2 linked regions of the Homo sapiens genome follow. The protein of the gene in region 2 interacts with the protein of the main gene of each other region in a biochemical or structural test. Each region holds a gene or a part of one and is shown on either strand. Other genes may lie near its edges.

The links.
Region 1: the proteins of SH2B3 (region 2) and KIT form a complex in vitro, tested with the Homo sapiens proteins (2 studies listed by BioGRID and IntAct, with this or other methods).

The regions. Positions count from the first base shown.
Region 1 is NC_000004.12:54,730,311-54,738,365, forward strand, and holds part of KIT (mast/stem cell growth factor receptor Kit isoform 1 precursor), read left to right. Parts: intron 1-1,017; coding exon 1,018-1,109; intron 1,110-1,560; coding exon 1,561-1,688; intron 1,689-2,759; coding exon 2,760-2,882; intron 2,883-6,187; coding exon 6,188-6,299; intron 6,300-6,410; coding exon 6,411-6,510; intron 6,511-6,864; coding exon 6,865-6,970; intron 6,971-8,055. UniProt on the Homo sapiens protein: Tyrosine-protein kinase that acts as a cell-surface receptor for the cytokine KITLG/SCF and plays an essential role in the regulation of cell survival and proliferation, hematopoiesis, stem cell maintenance, gametogenesis, mast cell development, migration and function, and in melanogenesis.
Region 2 is NC_000012.12:111,400,730-111,409,753, forward strand, and holds the start of SH2B3 (SH2B adapter protein 3), read left to right. Parts: upstream 1-5,193; 5' UTR 5,194-5,548; intron 5,549-9,024. UniProt on the Homo sapiens protein: Links T-cell receptor activation signal to phospholipase C-gamma-1, GRB2 and phosphatidylinositol 3-kinase.

The DNA.
Region 1 (8,055 bases), on a different chromosome or scaffold from region 2:
GCACTTTATATCCACTGCATCTTGCAATGGCAAGACATTGCCTCCTGAACTCTTAACACCAGGTCCTCAAGGAGACCTCAGTAAATATTATTGATGGGCAATTACCCCTTAAAGCCATTTTCTGTACCTCTGGCTAAAGTTTAAAACCCCAGGTGAAACTTTTTATTTTTTTTTAATCCTATAAACTTGAGTAGTTTAAAGTGGTAGTAGAAACTGTACAAAACCACTTTTTGTTAGTTTCTCCTGGGCATGTGCTCATTATATGAAGAAATGAGCCATTTTGCTTCTTTCCGAAACCTTGGCCCTATATATATCCTTTAACTTTCTGATATAATGGCCTAAATTGTTCAATCCTGTGTGATGTTCTTTGTGCTTTGGGATCCCATATGGGATTGGAACCACCAGCACACTCTGAAGGAGATTGTTGTCATGGTGTTTCTATGCTAATCAGAAGCAGGAAGTACTAGAAATCTTGAAGAGTCTCCAGCCAAATGTTGCAGATTGAAGAGGTCCAGATGGTTCAGAAAATCATCCAAATTATTGGTGTTTATCTGAACCAACTTGATTTTTTTTTAAACCTTCCTCCATCAGTCACTATATGTTAACGATCTCTGCCTCCTGCATAACACGTCTTGGAAGCTCTTCTTTGTCTTTCTTTCATCTTGTCTCCTGGGGCTCATTTAGAGAGTTTGAGGTAATACGGGATACCATATTTGGCTCTCTGTCTCCCATTAAATTCATTGTGTCAAGAGACGGGAAATTTCTAACCTGAGTCCTCTATATGATTATACACAAAAAGGACACCTAGTTTCTGGGCATGGACCCCAATATCGATTATTAAAAACTCATTTCTTACAGAACAGGATTTTCAAACTCTTTATTCAAACTTTACATGACTTTCCTCAAATTGGTCCAGTCTATTATGTAGCAAAGGGGATGAGGAGGTAGAGCATGACCCATGAGTGCCCTTCTACATGTCCCACTTGATTCAGTCATGACTTGTTTCATCTCTCCCAGCAGCGATAGTACTAATGAGTACATGGACATGAAACCTGGAGTTTCTTATGTTGTCCCAACCAAGGCCGACAAAAGGAGATCTGTGAGAATAGGTGAGTACCTACCTATCAAGCAACCAAGAGTAACTTTACAGAGAGTATGTATATCATGCTAATGTGGAATATAACATCATTCCCAGTAGCAATGATGCAGACCAGTTCTGCTTTATGGTAGCAGTGCCAATGGTCAATGGCAGTTAGGGTTGCAAGTGGGTGTTTGGGGTCAGAGCATATGTTTTTGTGCCTGAGTATCTTTCTATAGATATGGGATCTTTGCTTTAATTCGCCATCCCTCTCCTCTATGGATTTTGTAACCCAGCCTAGGATTGTTAAATATTAACTTTGTGATTCAGCATCTACCTTTCCTGGACACCAGGGAAGTGATCTGCCTGCAAGTTCACATTAGTTCATTCATTACCAGCCTTTGGTATGTCATTGCCACTGTCTTTTCCTTTCCTGACCTTTATGGTTGTAATTGCTAAGAAAAATCCTCTCTTCCTCACAGGCTCATACATAGAAAGAGATGTGACTCCCGCCATCATGGAGGATGACGAGTTGGCCCTAGACTTAGAAGACTTGCTGAGCTTTTCTTACCAGGTGGCAAAGGGCATGGCTTTCCTCGCCTCCAAGAATGTAAGTGGGAGTGATTCTCTAAAGAGTTTTGTGTTTTGTTTTTTTGATTTTTTTTTTTTTTTTTTTTTTTTTGAGAACAGAGCATTTTAGAGCCATAGTTAAAATGCAGAATGTCATTTTGAAGTGTGGTAACCAAAAGCAGAGGAAATTTAGTTTCTTCATGTTCCAACTGCTGTCTCTTTGGAATTCCTGTTCTAATTTATAAGCTGTAAAGTACAAGCCTGTCTAAATGAGTTTTTCTATGAATATTCTTTTATATGCAGTGAAATTCTTTTAAAACTTTTGGCTTTTAGGATATAGGATATGTTCCTAGAGAACAGAATCATTTTATCAGTAAAAGCAGAGGGCACCTCATAGTTACAAGGCTTGGGGTGAAGCATAGACTTGAGTTTTATTGAAGTTAGATCCAAATATTATATGTGTGGCTTATGAAGTGTCAGGAAATAAGGGGTCAGAGGGAGTAATAAACACTTGGGAGAAGGTTAGGAATGGAAAGAATGATGGAACCAAAACAAGGAGCATGGTCTGTGGAAGGGTGAAAGGAGTTCCTTAGGAAGTAAGATTAACCGAACAGAATGAGTTACCAGTCCTACCCTTAAATGTCATGGGTGACATTTCCCAACAATTACCAAACTAAGAAAGGATATAAGATGGCTGAAATAAAGACCTTCTTCCGTGTGTCCTTGGGAGATGTCAGATTGAATTTGCAAAGGCATATTAGGAACTCTGTGAAAGGACATTCAAAGAGATGCATGCAAAATGAATTTTCAGTTTAAACAATATGATATGACTATTTCTTATGTATTTCCCTATGAATGAAAGCAGTCCTGAGAAGAAAACAGCATTTATTAGAATTGCTTTTAAAAGAGATTATAATAATTAGACTCTTGATTATGTGAACATCATTCAAGGCGTACTTTTGATTTTTATTTTTGGTGTACTGAATACTTTAAAACAAAAGTATTGGATTTTTTATAATATAAGCAACACTATAGTATTAAAAAGTTAGTTTTCACTCTTTACAAGTTAAAATGAATTTAAATGGTTTTCTTTTCTCCTCCAACCTAATAGTGTATTCACAGAGACTTGGCAGCCAGAAATATCCTCCTTACTCATGGTCGGATCACAAAGATTTGTGATTTTGGTCTAGCCAGAGACATCAAGAATGATTCTAATTATGTGGTTAAAGGAAACGTGAGTACCCATTCTCTGCTTGACAGTCCTGCAAAGGATTTTTAGTTTCAACTTTCGATAAAAATTGTTTCCTGTGATTTTCATAATGTAAATCCTGTCTAGGGATATCACACATTTTAGCAGTCAAATTAAGTATACTTCAGCAAAATTTGCATGGTATGCTGAACATTACTACAACTAACATTCAATAATAGAAGTCCTAATTCTAATTGTGTAATTTTGGGGCATGTGAAGGAAACAGAAATAGCCTTAATTTTCATTATAGCCTGAGAATAGCAATGAACTTGATTTTGCTCAAGTGTAACAAATGTAGGTCATTGAAGGTCACAGCAGGAGAAATTTTGGGGGGATTGGCATGCCGTGTGAAAAATATTAAAATCTAAGATCATATTCAGAGTTAGCCATATAGAATGTTGGATCCTAGAATACACGGAGAGCTATTAAATAGGTTCATAAGTAATAATGGGTTTGTAGAACATAGCAAATGTTTTTCAAAGTGCTGTATTTCCTTGCCAATTTTTATTGAATCCTCAGAACAAACCCTTGTCCTATAATTGCAGCACCTTCCTATTTTAAAAGTTGGAGAAACTAAGGCATGGCATATTTTAGTGCTTTTTATCTGAGGTGACACAGGACAATAGAGGCTGAAACTAGAGCCTGTGATTTCCAGAGTGGCATCCCATCGCCATGGAAAACCATATTGCCCTTTATAATATTCTCTGCCTGTCTTCCTGGGCCCATTTCTGCAGTCCAGATTTATTCCTGGAGGTGGATTTTTGTGCCCCTTATGATAATGTAATGTTTTCCCCCCATCACTGTGGCGTCTCTATTGGTAGCCTGTACTCGATTTGGTTTTGTAAGAGTGTTTCTGTGTTTATCTCCTGGCCAAAGCATGAATTTCTGAAAAGGCTGCCCTGAAGCTAGATATTATCATCAGGAGTGATAATAAAAACAACTTCTCTTCATCCTGGTGCAATTTTGGAAGGAAGAATGATAAGTCGTTAATTATCCAGTCCTCTGAATATTGACCAAAGGGAGGAGGAAGAAGGTGGCCGCCTCCAGGCCCAGTCTTGATGAATTCTGCAATCTGTCTCCATTATTTCATGCCTGTGTAATTTTGTCAAGAGTTGTCCAATACCTCTGAATCTTTGTTTTTCTCCCCTTGGGAATAATAGTGATTCCTGACTCAGAAAGTTATGAGTTAATATATGTAAAGTGCTTATGACAGTGCCAGACATATTGTTACTATTCTTTATAGATGTCTTATTTACGATCTAAATAATCGTGACGGTGGTTACATACTGTCTTGTTATTGGTTAGTGACCTTAGTTTGAAATGACAAAGAGGGGTTGGCTCTATCAGGCTTCCAGATTGTAGACTCCAGTTCAAGTCAGTTGAACTAACCAATCACAGATCTCGCTTTCACCAGGCTAGTGGGTAAGGAGAATTTCTGGAACAAGATAAGAAGAAGGAAACTCATATATGTTACCGCCCCACATTTTTGTCATCATCATTTGAGATCTCCTTGTTGTGTCAGGTTCTCTGAAGTTCTTTCCTTTCACATGAGTTCTTCATTGTTTTTCATGTCATGGCCCCTTTTAGAGCCTGGTAAAGCCTATGGGACCCTTATCAGAACACTGTTTTCAACGCCTATGATGAAATACATAGGAATACCAAGGAAAACAGTTAAATCGAAATAGCTATGAAGATACTAAGTAAATTTGTGATATGTCAGTACATGTGTTTACTATAGAGTGTAACAGGCTCTGTTAGGTTGGTGTAAAAGTAATTGTGGGTTTTGCTATTTTTTCTAAAAACCACTGTAATTTTAGAGTGGTGATTAATGTAAATATGATTTTGAGATACCTATAAAGACTTAATAGGATATGAAGATATTTATGATTACTGTTCATGACAAAGTCACAGGTACAGCTGATACTACTGCGTTTTATCACCTTTGTTAGTAATTTAAAGAAATGCTAAATTTCATCTAGAAATTAGCGAAAATAAGGATGTCATTTTTCCTTTCCAAGTTCACAGGCCCCTGAATTTGACACCCATAGATCTCAGGTTAGGAGCCCTTATAGGAACTTTAGCACAACATCTAGGAAGGGAAGGGATATTGGAAGTTTTTTGTTTTGTTTTTGTAAGCTGACTAAAATAACTTTAACACCAAAAAAAAAAAAGAAAAAAAAAAAAAGCTTTCCCAGTTTTCAATCCTAAATGGATTAAGAGAAGGATTGATTTAGCTTTTTATGGCAGATTAAGATTGGGAATCCAGAATGCATCTAAAAGGACTAGTTACAGAAAGTTTAGCTCAACTTTAATGGAGAGAGTTCTCCAAAGAGTCAGGATCACAAGCCACTACTGTTTATCAAGTACTTGCCTTTCTTCTAGGCAATTTTTCAGATAGCACTGAGTCAGGCGGTGCTAAGCATTTTTACCCATTTTATCTTATTTAACCCACAAGACAATTCATAAAATTAAAAGTATTCATTTTGTTTTACAGAAGAAGATACTGAGGCTTAATTACAAATATTTTAGTGACTTTCCCAGTGTATTAGAGAAAGTTTTGGGTTTTGACAGAAAACCCAAAATAAAAGAAGTCTAGGAGTAGACTTTATACCAGGATTGGTATAAAGGTTCCATGGAGTACCCGGGCAAGTCTTTCCTTTCCATGCTTAGCCATTCCTGAGTGTAACCCCCATGTCCATGGTCCAAGATGACCACCAGGTGGATAGCCAGCCATCATATCCAGAAGGCAGGGGGCCCTTGCACTAGAGAAGAGAGGGCAGAGGGCACGTGCCAGCTATATTGTAAGGAGGTTTTCCTGAAGCTGCTATACAGCACTTACAACTTAGTGGCCAAAACCGAGTCACCTAACTACAGCTAGCTAGCTGCAAAGGAGGCTGGGAAATGTAGTCCTAATTGTGAGAGGCCGTGTTTCTGTTTTTAAGGAAGGAGAGGGACATATTCAGTGGAAACTAACAAATCTCTGCATTACCTAAGGCCCATGGTGGAGCCAGGGCTAAAATGTCTGGCTGTCTCTGACGTTTGTGCTCTTAATCTCCATGCCGTACTGACATAGTGCTCACATCTTAAAATGGGGATAATGCACTTGTGAGCCATGTATTTCAGAGGTGATTGGGATCATCTGAGTTCATATAGGTAAAAGGTTTTTGTGAGATGGTACTCAAGTTATCACTCCACATTTCAGCAACAGCAGCATCTATAAGAATATCTTCTGTTCAATTTTGTTGAGCTTCTGAATTAACATTATTGACTCTGTTGTGCTTCTATTACAGGCTCGACTACCTGTGAAGTGGATGGCACCTGAAAGCATTTTCAACTGTGTATACACGTTTGAAAGTGACGTCTGGTCCTATGGGATTTTTCTTTGGGAGCTGTTCTCTTTAGGTAAAATGATCCTTGCCAAAGACAACTTCATTAGACTCAGAGCATCTTCTTGAAGTTTCATTGGTGTCCTGCTTCCTTGTGATTAACACTGCTTTGCAAACTGTGTCTCAGGAAGCAGCCCCTATCCTGGAATGCCGGTCGATTCTAAGTTCTACAAGATGATCAAGGAAGGCTTCCGGATGCTCAGCCCTGAACACGCACCTGCTGAAATGTAAGAGCCAAAAAATTTTTCCTTTAGGTCACGTTTTCCCTTTTATTTTTCTTTTTAGAGACAGAAACCCAGATGTTGAGGGTTTTCATAACACAGTTTGAAATGTCACTTGGATTCTTTATGACACACTGGTCAAATGTCATTTCTGTAGTTTATTTTCATAATCTCTTGTCACCAAAAATACAGAAAGTTTCAGTAATATTTCATACATGCAGTGTTTTATGTTATCTATATGTCAGTCCATATGTCCAGTTGCATAGCCCTGGAATTATTACTGAAGTTGCTGGATGCCCATACATTTGAAAACAAGCTGAGGGCATTGAGGAGGGATAGTAAATGGCCCTTGTCTTGCAGGTATGACATAATGAAGACTTGCTGGGATGCAGATCCCCTAAAAAGACCAACATTCAAGCAAATTGTTCAGCTAATTGAGAAGCAGATTTCAGAGAGCACCAATCATGTGAGTATACCCTGGCCAGGCATAGAATCCCCCTTCTCCCAGTTCCAGGTGTGTCCTCCTCCTCAGGCTTTCAGGGTGAGGACTAACCTCCCAACCCCTTCTCTCCTAATCTTAGGTTGCAAATTGGGCTTCAGGTAGGGGAAGTAAAGCAATGGAAACTAGTTCTTTCTGCCCAGCCCTCCTGTTCTGAGCCAAAGAAGGATGTGAGATTGAGGGGGAAGGGTGGAGAGTTTTGTACTCACTGGAAGTAGAAGTTTCCATAAGGATTTGCCATGTTTCCTCCCTCATCTCAAATGCTGGTCACGGGGTCAGTATTTTCTCCCTCTCACATGTCAGGGCCATGCATCCTTTGGAGGGTTGGGGTGATGTGAACTAGAATAAAAGCATAGAAAAGACAGCTTGTTACTGCAGTGAAATAAGCCTTCTGATCAAACAAGCATAGCCAGAAAATGGCAGATAGCTGTCATGCCCACAAGCCATATAGAATGAAGAGCTGTTTGAAGTTGGGAGATCCCTCCCAGTGATTTGGGAAGTGTGGGGGAATGAAAACTCAAATCCATTATTTCCTCTCTTTTTAAGCAAGAATTAGTGATACTTTGACTCAGATTTTTTTAAGCTGCTTTCTTTCCTGGGCTGTGTGCTTGGAGCTATCTTTTCTTTCCTAATAGCACACCACTGATAATTTTTGGGTTAAAGCTTGTTCTTCTGGGTGTCAAAACATGTTTCAAATTGAACAGCATTTTCCACCCAGTTGCTTTGATTCTTGACAAGAGACCCCTGGAAGGGCCGTGGGTTTCCCAGCAAATTACATTGGTTATTGGGTTGTAGTTGCTGGAGAGATTTACAAGCCTTTTAAATAGGTAAGATAGTGCTTGGTGCCTGGTGTGCCCTTTTAGAAGAGCTAAGCTTGTGCATGTTTTGTCCCCACTTCTTGTATAAAGTTATTTCCTTGGAAAAATGAAGGGGGAAAACAAAGCTTATATTTGTTTTGTCAGTATGACTTGGGTTTTGGCCACAAAGTTCTTGGAAACCACTTCTCTCTTAAGAGTTTCCATCAGTTAGTTGTGATCTTGACACTGTAAGTA
Region 2 (9,024 bases):
AAGATTGCCTGAGGTCAGCTATTCAAGGCCAGCCTGGCCAACATGGTGAAACCCCATCTCTACTAAAACTACAAAAAATTAGCTGGGCATGGTGGCTTTCACTTGTAATTCCAGCTTCTCAGGAGGCTGAGGCAGAAGAATCACTTGAACCCAGGAGGTGGCAGAGGCTGCAGTGAGCCAGGATTGAGCCATTGCACTCCAGCCTGGGCAACAGAGTGAGACTCCGTCTCAAACAAAACAAAACAAAAACATCTGGTGGAAGAGCATTCTGGGCACAGGGAACAGCCAGTGCTAAGGCCTTGAAGTGGGAGCATGAAGGTGAGTTTGAGGAACAGCCAGGAGGAGCCCAGTGTGCTGCAGTGTCCTTTGATAATGCTCAGCACTCTGTGCATTCACTGAAGGCCACTAGGGACAAAGTGTCCTACACAATGTCATTTCCCTTCACCCAACTACTATCATGCCCATTTGACAAGCCAGAGATACTGAGGCTCAGAAAGTGGGAGCCTGTTGCTGGTGGCAAGAGGGGACCTTTGGAGGTTGCACAGCAGTGCCGTGATGGAAACTCGGGCATGGGAAACACCAGCAGTAGCCATTGCCCAGCTGGGGGCCAGGCCAGGCCAGGTCCCCGGGCCTCCTCCTCGCCTGTGGCCCAGGCCTGCAGAAGCACATTTTACAAATGCAGACAGCAAGGCCTCCACTCTGGCTGGGTGACCCTGGGCAAGATCTTTGCTCTCAAACCTCAGTGTCTGCATCTGTAAAAGGGGTGTGAAGCTCTGTTGTTTACAGGACTGGTCTTTGTGGCCACTCCTCTTCACAACCCTCGAGGGACACGGGACTCTCACACCCAATCATAGATTATAATCACATTCTTTTTTTTTTTGAGACGAAGTCTCACTCTTGTCACCAGGCTGGAGTGCAATGGTGCAATCTCGGCTCACTGCAACCTCCGCCTCCCAGGTTCAAGCAATTATCCCTGCGTCAGCCTCCCAAGTAGCTGGGATTACAGGCACCCACCAGCACGCCCAGTTAATTTTTGTATTTTTAGTAGAGACAGGGTTTCACCATGTTGACAAGGCTGGTCTCAAACTCCCGACCTCAGGTGATCCATCTGCTGCAGCCTCCCAAAGTGCTGGGATTACCGGCATGAGCCACCGAGCCTGCACTATATTCAACATTCTTTATCAGTCGTTGCTATGTGGAGGTACCTCCCCCACTCCTAAGCCCTCAATGTGAGTTTTCTCATCAAATTCCCCCTCAACCCAATGGGGTCAGTCCTGTCACTGTCCCCATTTTCCAGATGAGGAAACTGAGGCCCAGAGAATCTATGTGACTGCACAGCTAGGAGATACAGAACAGAGAACTCTTTTTTTTTTTTTTGGAGACGGAGTCTCGCTCTGTTGTTGCCAGGCTGGAGCACAGTCGCGTGATCTCAGCTCACTGCAACCTCCCCTTCCTGGGTTTAAGCGATTCTCCTGCCTCAGCCTCCCGAGTAGCTGGGACTACTGGCACCCGCCACCACACCCGGCTAATTTTTGTATTTTTAGTAGAGATGGGGTTTCACCATATTGGCCTGGCTGGTCTTGAACTCCTGACTTTGTGATCCACCGCCTCAGTCTCCCAAAGTGCTGGGATTACAGGCCTAAGCCACCGCGCCTGGCCCACTTTTTGAATTTTTATGAGTATATAGTAGGTGTATATATTTATGGAGTATGTGAGGTATTTTGATACAGGCATGCAATGTGTAATTATCACATCAGGGTAAATGAGGTATCCATCACCTCAAGCACTTATCATGTATTTGTGTTTGTACTAGTTAACTTTTGTTGTTATTTAAATTATTATTAATACGAATTGCTAATATGAATATTAATAGCATTGATCATTGTTAATTTATTGCTGTTGACTCGTGTTGTAATCGTTATCTTTTTAATTTTTTTTTTTTTTTTTTGAGACGGATTTTCACTCTTGTTGCCCAGGCTGGAGTGCAATGGTACGATCTCGGCTCACCGCAACCTCCACCTCCCGGGTTCAAACAATTCTCCTGCCTCAGCCTCCTGAGTAGCTGGGATTACAGGCATGCGGCACCACACCTGGCTAATTTTGTATTTTTAGTAGAGACGGGGTTTCTCCATGTTGGTCAGGCTGGTCTCGAACTCCCGACCTTGGGTGATCCGCCTGCCTCGGCCTCCCAAAGTGCTGGGATTACAGGCATGAGCCACCGCGCGTGGCCTGTAATTGTTATTAATCCTGTGAGTCTCCGGCTTTCTGGAACTTGGCCAGCAGGAGGTGTTGGTGTTTTTCACAGCAAGAAGGAAGGGCGGTTGGACCTGCTCCCCTAAGACGGCCTGGCTTGTTTCCGGGAGCTACGGATCAGTCATGGGAATTTGAATAACCCTTTCTCTCCTTAGGTCCCAGTGACCTGCCGAGTGGGAAGAGCCGTGGCTGGCCGGCCTCCCAGTGGCGACGACGACCTCGCTGTGTTCGTGGCAGCGGCACTCTCAAATCTGGGCACGGTGATGGGAAGGTTATTTGTTGGAATCCCTTTGCCTTTCCAAGGGAAAATAAACACAAAAAGTGAGAAGTCTTGGGGTCTCAGCGAGCGCCAAAACAAAAAACTGGACTCTGGCGGGGATGTGGGCAAGAAGCGACTAAGCGAGGAAGGAAACCAGTTTGGGCCTCCGAGAAATCTGGCAGGCGAGAAGGTTTGAACCGTGATTAAAAAGGGGAAGAACCACAAGTCCCAATTTAAGTCAGCAGAGCTGCTGTCTGGGCAGTGAGAGGGAAAGTGCTTGTGGCTGGCAGATTTCAGCAGCCATTTGGCATTGGCTGGGTACCGGGCTGCTCTGTGGGTGCTGCCTGGCAGCTGCATGGCTACAGACAAGTAACTGTTCTCTCTTGGCCGCAGTGTCCCCAGGTATAAGAAAGTGATCAAATAATATGGGATGATCCATTCAGACTTTTTTTTTTTTTTTTTTTAGAGACAGAGCCTACCTCTGTCTCCCAGGCTCGAGTGCAGTGATGCAATCTTGGCTCACTGCAGTGTCCACCTCCCAGGTTCAAGCGATTCTTCTGCCTCTGCCTCCCCAGTAGCTGGGACTACAGGTGCGTGCAACCATGCCTGGCTAATTTTTGTATTTTTAGTAGAGACAGGGTTTCACCCTGTTGACCAGGCTGGTCTCAAACTCCTGACCTCAGGTGATCCGCTGGCCTCAGCCTCCCAAAGTGCTGAGATTGCAGGTGTGAGCCACTACACCCGGCCTCGTTTAGACTTCATTGACATTCCCCCACCCCACCCCTCTTCCCACATCCTCAGATGCCGTGTGAACAGCTTGAATCCCACACTCCACAGGTCCTTCTCCTCACAACCCTCCATGGCACCCTACTGCCTTCAAAATAATTCCCAAAGTCCCCACCAAGACCTTCAAGACACCATGTGATGGGCCCACCTTTGAAACATCATCTCTTACCAGTATAGGTGTCACCACTGCCTTTATGACTTTATTCCAAAGCACCACATGTATTCCCACCTCAGCACCTTTGCACATGCTGTTCCTTTGGCCTGGAATGCTCTTCCCTCAGACGTTATAGCACCTGGATCCTTCTTGTCATGGAGGGTTCTAAGCTCACATGTTAGTTCCGCAGAGGTGTCCTTCCTGAGCCCTGGATCTAAGACATCCCCTTCCAGCTCTCCATCCCGTAACTGTTTTGTCATTGTCATAGCTGATCCCACTTGCTTATTCGTGCCTTATGTCCCCCCACTAGAATATCAGCTCCACGCAGGCAGGGATATCTGTGTTGTTCACTGCTGTGTTCCCAGCGCCTAGAACAGTGCCTGGAAATGTGCGGAAAGCAGATTTTTGTGGCCTTTTTCTTCAAGGTCATTGGACACCAGGAATCCTGTAGCAGACCGCTCCCTTCCCCCATCTACTCGGAGTCTGGAAATCCCCACCTTCTGGGGAACCCCTTCCTGTAGTTCTAAGGTCAGGACTGGGGCCGATTTGTTTAACACAGAGAGCTTCCTGGAGCCAAGCCTCGAGCTAACTGCTTTAATGCATTAACTCACTTAATTCTCACTGCCAGGAGAGTGGGTACACATTATTTCCATTTCATAGGCAAGGAAGTGGAGAGGTACGGAGAAGTCAAGTCATTTGCCCGGGTAGGAAGAGGGGGAGGCAGTGGAATGGAGACACTTGCTGCCTGGGAAGACTCGAGGTGGCCCCTCCAAGCTGGGGGCGTGGGCGACTTGTTTCCTGTTGGGGGAGGGGGAGAAGAGTACATTCCTCCCTCCCCGCCCTCCCACATGTTGGGGGAGAGGCTGGCTGAGAGCATGTCCCACTCCGGACTAGGGGGAACCCCACTGTCCGTCTCAGCTCCCCATGAGGCCGTGGAGAAAATGTAAGTAGCCCGGGGGCGGGCAGGGGGGTGGGCGCAGAGGCCACGGAAGCCAGCGGTCGGAGAGGGCTTCCTGGAGAAAGATGCACCCCTCCTAGAATTGGGGGACAGGACGGGCGGCCGGAGCGAGGCTGGGCTATACGGGCACCGGCTGTAGCAAAGGCAAAGCTGAGGGCTGGGGCCAGAACCCAAATCGGGGGCCTGGGGCCGTGGCGGGTCGGGTCAGCATGATCGCAGATAGTCAGGGTCGGGCAGGGCTGGGCTCCCTCCCTGGGGCGATGATGAAAGCCGTGGTCGCTATTGCACCGCCCAGCCCTGCGGGCACTGATAAGGCCCTGCAGGAGGGAGTCAGCAAGGGCGCGCCCCCTGGAGGCCAGGCCCCTCGACCCTGCCCGCCCTAGGCCCCGCCCCTTCATCTGGCCCCGCCTCCAGGCGCTGAGGCACCTGGTGACCTGCCGGCGTTGAGTGGGTGGGGCTAAAGTCGCCCCGCCCCTCCGATCCTCACTTCTATCTTCAGACTGTGGGACGCGAAATCGGGTGGGCACGTGGTGGGCGTGGCTTCGCAAGGCCTCGCCTTTTTCCGGACCCGCGCCAGGAGAGCCCTCCGACCCTGGCAGCCGCGGACTAGCGGGATTGGTAGGCGGGGCCAGTCCGGGCTCCGCCCTCATGGCCCGCCCCTCCAGCCGAATCTCCGACTCGCGCGCGGCCTGAGGCGTGGCTCCTGGTGGCCCCGCCCCTGCCCCGCCCCTGTCGCGGCCGGCCTCCCCCGCCGGGCTCCGCTCGCACGGCCGGTTCCTCTTTACATAACGGCGCGGGGCGGCATGGGCCCGGGCCACCGCCTCCGCCCGGCTGCCCGCCCGGACTGTCGCGGCCCGCGGTGGCGACGGCGGCCGCTGCAAAGTTTCCCCGGCGGCGGCGGCCCGGGGGCGCATCCTCCCGCAACTGTCAAGCGCTGGCGGCGGAAATGATGAGGCGCTGGCCATTTTCCGAGCCCGGGTTTCCTGCCTGAGCCCCGCTCGAGCGAGCCGCGAGCGAGGAGCCGGCGGGCGGGAGAGGACGCGCCCAGGGCGGGGGCCCGCCCGCCCCCTCGGGATTTCGAGGGCCCGGGGGCGCGCGACGCCATGGGCCGGCCGGGCCCAGAGCTCCTGTCTCTCAGGTGAGCCCGCGTTTGCCCGCGCTCCCCTCCTCCGGGGCCGGGAGGGCTTTTGTGGGGAAAGAGGAGGCCCCGTGTCCAGTTCTGCCCGGGCTCTGCGCGTCACCCCCAGCCCAAAATACTGCCCTGCAGCCAACTCGGATGGAGGCGTTCCGGGGTGACGGCTCCCAGCGCCTACGACCCCCCACTCAGCCACTACCCCCACCCACACACGTGTTAGGGAGAGCGTTGGGGTAACTGAGGCCGTGGGATGGGGGAGAGGGCATCGCTGACGCCCCCAGCCCACCCTACGGTAGCCTCGCCGGTTGGGGGCGGCCCTCCCCTCAACTTGTGCCTGGGGAGGAGCGGTCAGGGGTCACCCATTGCTACCCTGAAAGTGAAAGTAGTCAAACTGAGGCTGTGAGCACAGATGAGCCCTTGGGTGTGGGGGCAGCGGGGGAGGATGCGCCGGCCCCTCCCCACTCCCCATTCCGGGCCATGTGGCTAAGAGGGTAGCGCCCTGATTCAGGAAGCCCCTCTCCCCAGTTCCTGCACTGCCGAGGTCGACCGGGCCAGGCCCCCGCATGCTGCTGAATTGGGCGGTTCACCAGGGCTAGGCGTCCCAGAGACAGGTTTCTGGTATTGATCCTCTCACACCTCTTGCCTGGGGTTCCCTGGGAATCCCCCGACCAAAAAACGTCTGGAGTGGGTGTTGGTCTTCTAGATCCGCACGGTAGGGATGGTATTTCAGAGGTCTCTGATGCCTGGTGCAGAAATCCCCTTCCCTCCCTTCCCTCCCTCCGGCCAGGGGAGCTTTGTTTTGAGGGAGGGGGACTGCATTTGAGGAACTGGAGAGGAGGGTCTGCCTGCCTGTCCCGCTTCTTTTTTTCTTTAGTTTCCTCATTCTCCTGTTTCTCTTCCCCATTCCCAGCCACAATGATGTAGGTGAGGAGGTCACTGCCTGCAGCTGGGGGCCTCCAGGGAGGGGCACGGCCAGGCTGGGCTGAGTGGGAGGAAGTGAAATCTGGTGGGGGGTTCAGAGCAGAGGCCCCGGCAAGGCAATGTCGGCAAGGCCAGCTTTGGTGGCAGGAGGGACCGAGATCTGACCCGCAGCCCCTCGCCGGGGAGATGACAGTTCCCTAACACCGGCTAGCAGCCAGGCCTCAGGGCCCCTGCCAGGGCAGTGGGCCTGTGGGTCTCCAGGGATGCAGGCGCAGGTTGTGTCTGGGTTTCCCATCACTGACCTGGCTGCCTGAGTGGAAACAGCTCTGGAGGCTCCTCGGGACCTGCCCTCGTGGAGGGAGAGCCGTCAGAGGCCACCTGGGCAGGCTGGGCTCGGAGGATGAGAGCCAGGGCCTACTGGGGGAAGTTGGAAGGGTTTTTAGTGCACTTTTCCTGAGCCTTTTCCCACTACCCCCTCTGGGAGGGAAAATCCTTCTGAGCCAAAGGGTGAGCATTCCTAGAACTTTTGTGAGTCCCTGTGGGCCACAGAGCGGCCAGCTGGGAAGGGGCTGGCTCAGAGCATCAGCAGCTGGGGGCTCAGGGTCTGCAGGGGCTCAGCAGGAAGTGGAGGAGGATAGTGAGGAGGGTCCTGGAGACTGTGCTTTGCTACTCCTATTGCCTTCGTTCAGCTGAAGGCGTGGGCAAGTGACTCTGCCCTCAGTTTCCCTCTGTGTAAAATGGGGGAGTAACAGGTTTGCAGTGGAGATTTAATGAGCCAGTGTGTAATGAGCACCTGCTGCCTGGCAAAGAGAGGTTCAGTTGCAGGTGGTGGTGGTGGTAGTGGTGATTTTATCATTGCCTTCATTAGTGTTACTGTTATTGGCTATGAGGTGTTCCTTCAGTAGTCTCCCTTGAGCATCTCTTGCATACATAGCACTGGAATTTCCTGGGTCTTTGGGAGCAGAATTTTGAAGATCTGGGCACTTCCTTAGCTATAAGGCCTTGCTTAACTGCCCCACCTCAGTTTCCTCATCTGTGAAATGGGTGTGCTAATAGTACCTACTTCCTAGAGTCATGGGAACCATGAATGAGTGAATTCACAGTGTCCAGAGTGGCTTGGTCAGGAGGAAGAGAAGAAGTAGCCTTGGGGCCGGAATGATCTTTTTTGTTGTGGGTGTTAGCTCTGCTGGCTTTCTTTCCTCATCCCCCCACCCCCACCCCCATGCCTCTCAAACCTGGGCCTGATCCTCCTTCTCCGATAAATAGAACTTTTGAGTACAAATCAGATCCCACAGGACTGCTGGGCCCTTGGATTTCTGGCTCCCGCTGTGCCACCCCCAGACATTCTCCATATCCCAGGTGGAGCAGAGCTGGAGGCACTTGGAGGGACCTCCTCGCTGCCAGTCTCAGTGCCACCTGTCTGTGGTGAGGGGAGACCGGGTGCCCTCCCCAGCCAAGGTGGGGAGGGTCAGTGAAGGGGGTCTCAGGGACATAGTAGGGAGCTGTCCCACAGTCTGGGCCAATACAGCTCCTTTTGCTGGAAACACCTTTGGGACCCAGTTTACATGACCCCACACCCTTCTGAGGGCTGGTGTTCATGAGGGTCTCCCATTGCTGGGGATCCTTGGGTTGATCACTTAAGCTCTCTGAGGCAATTGAGACAACATCTGTGAAAGGCTTTAACAGCTGTGCACTTGCTGTGACATGGCACATAAGGCACTGAGCGCTGAGCCTGGCACTCAATTAACAATAGTAGATATTATTGCTATTAATAAAACAAGAGGCTTTTCCTGCTAAATTCCCACTTCTCCCTGGTAGCAGTATGGACTTTGGGGCCAAATCTGGGCTCTGCCAGCTTCCAGGTGTGAGGTCCTAGGCAGGTTACCTGGCTTCTCTGATCTGGACCTCGCCTGCCCGATGGAAGCCAAGAGTTCCAGCCTCCCCAGGGTTGGGTGTGTGAAGTACAGTGTCAGGACTGGAACTGTGTTGGCTGTACTTGCTCTGGCTGTGTGATCTTGGGCTGGTCCCTTAGCCTCTCTGAGCCACAGGTCTTTTTGTCTATGAAATAGGGGGGTTGCCAACTCCCTGTTAGGGTGGTTTTGAGAAAAGGAGGCATGCACAGTGCCCGGCATGCAATTGGCACTCAATAAGTGCAAGCCATTGCTGTTCATGCCCAATAGGGGCTGGCACTTAATTGCCAGGTTTCCTGGGAAAACGGTCCCCAAGGGCCCGCGGGCGTTCAGCATCTTTGACGAGGCAGGGCAGGAAGCCGCTGCCGTCTGGCAGACCGGAGACGCCTGCCTCGGCGAGTCCAGAGGTGCAGTGCTAGCTGCTCATTCCCTGCAAGGCCCCATTCCTCACTACCCACCCTTCCCAAGGAAACTGAGGCGGGCAGGCTGCCCAGGGGAAGTGACTCAGCCGGGGTCACTTGCTGAGTCAGGCCTTATTGGACCCAGGAGTCCTGCACCCCACCTCCCCAGCTTCCCGGGGCTTGAGATCCCTTGGAGACTGAGCAGGTCCTGAGGCCTGGCAGCAGGACCAGGCCACCACTGGACATC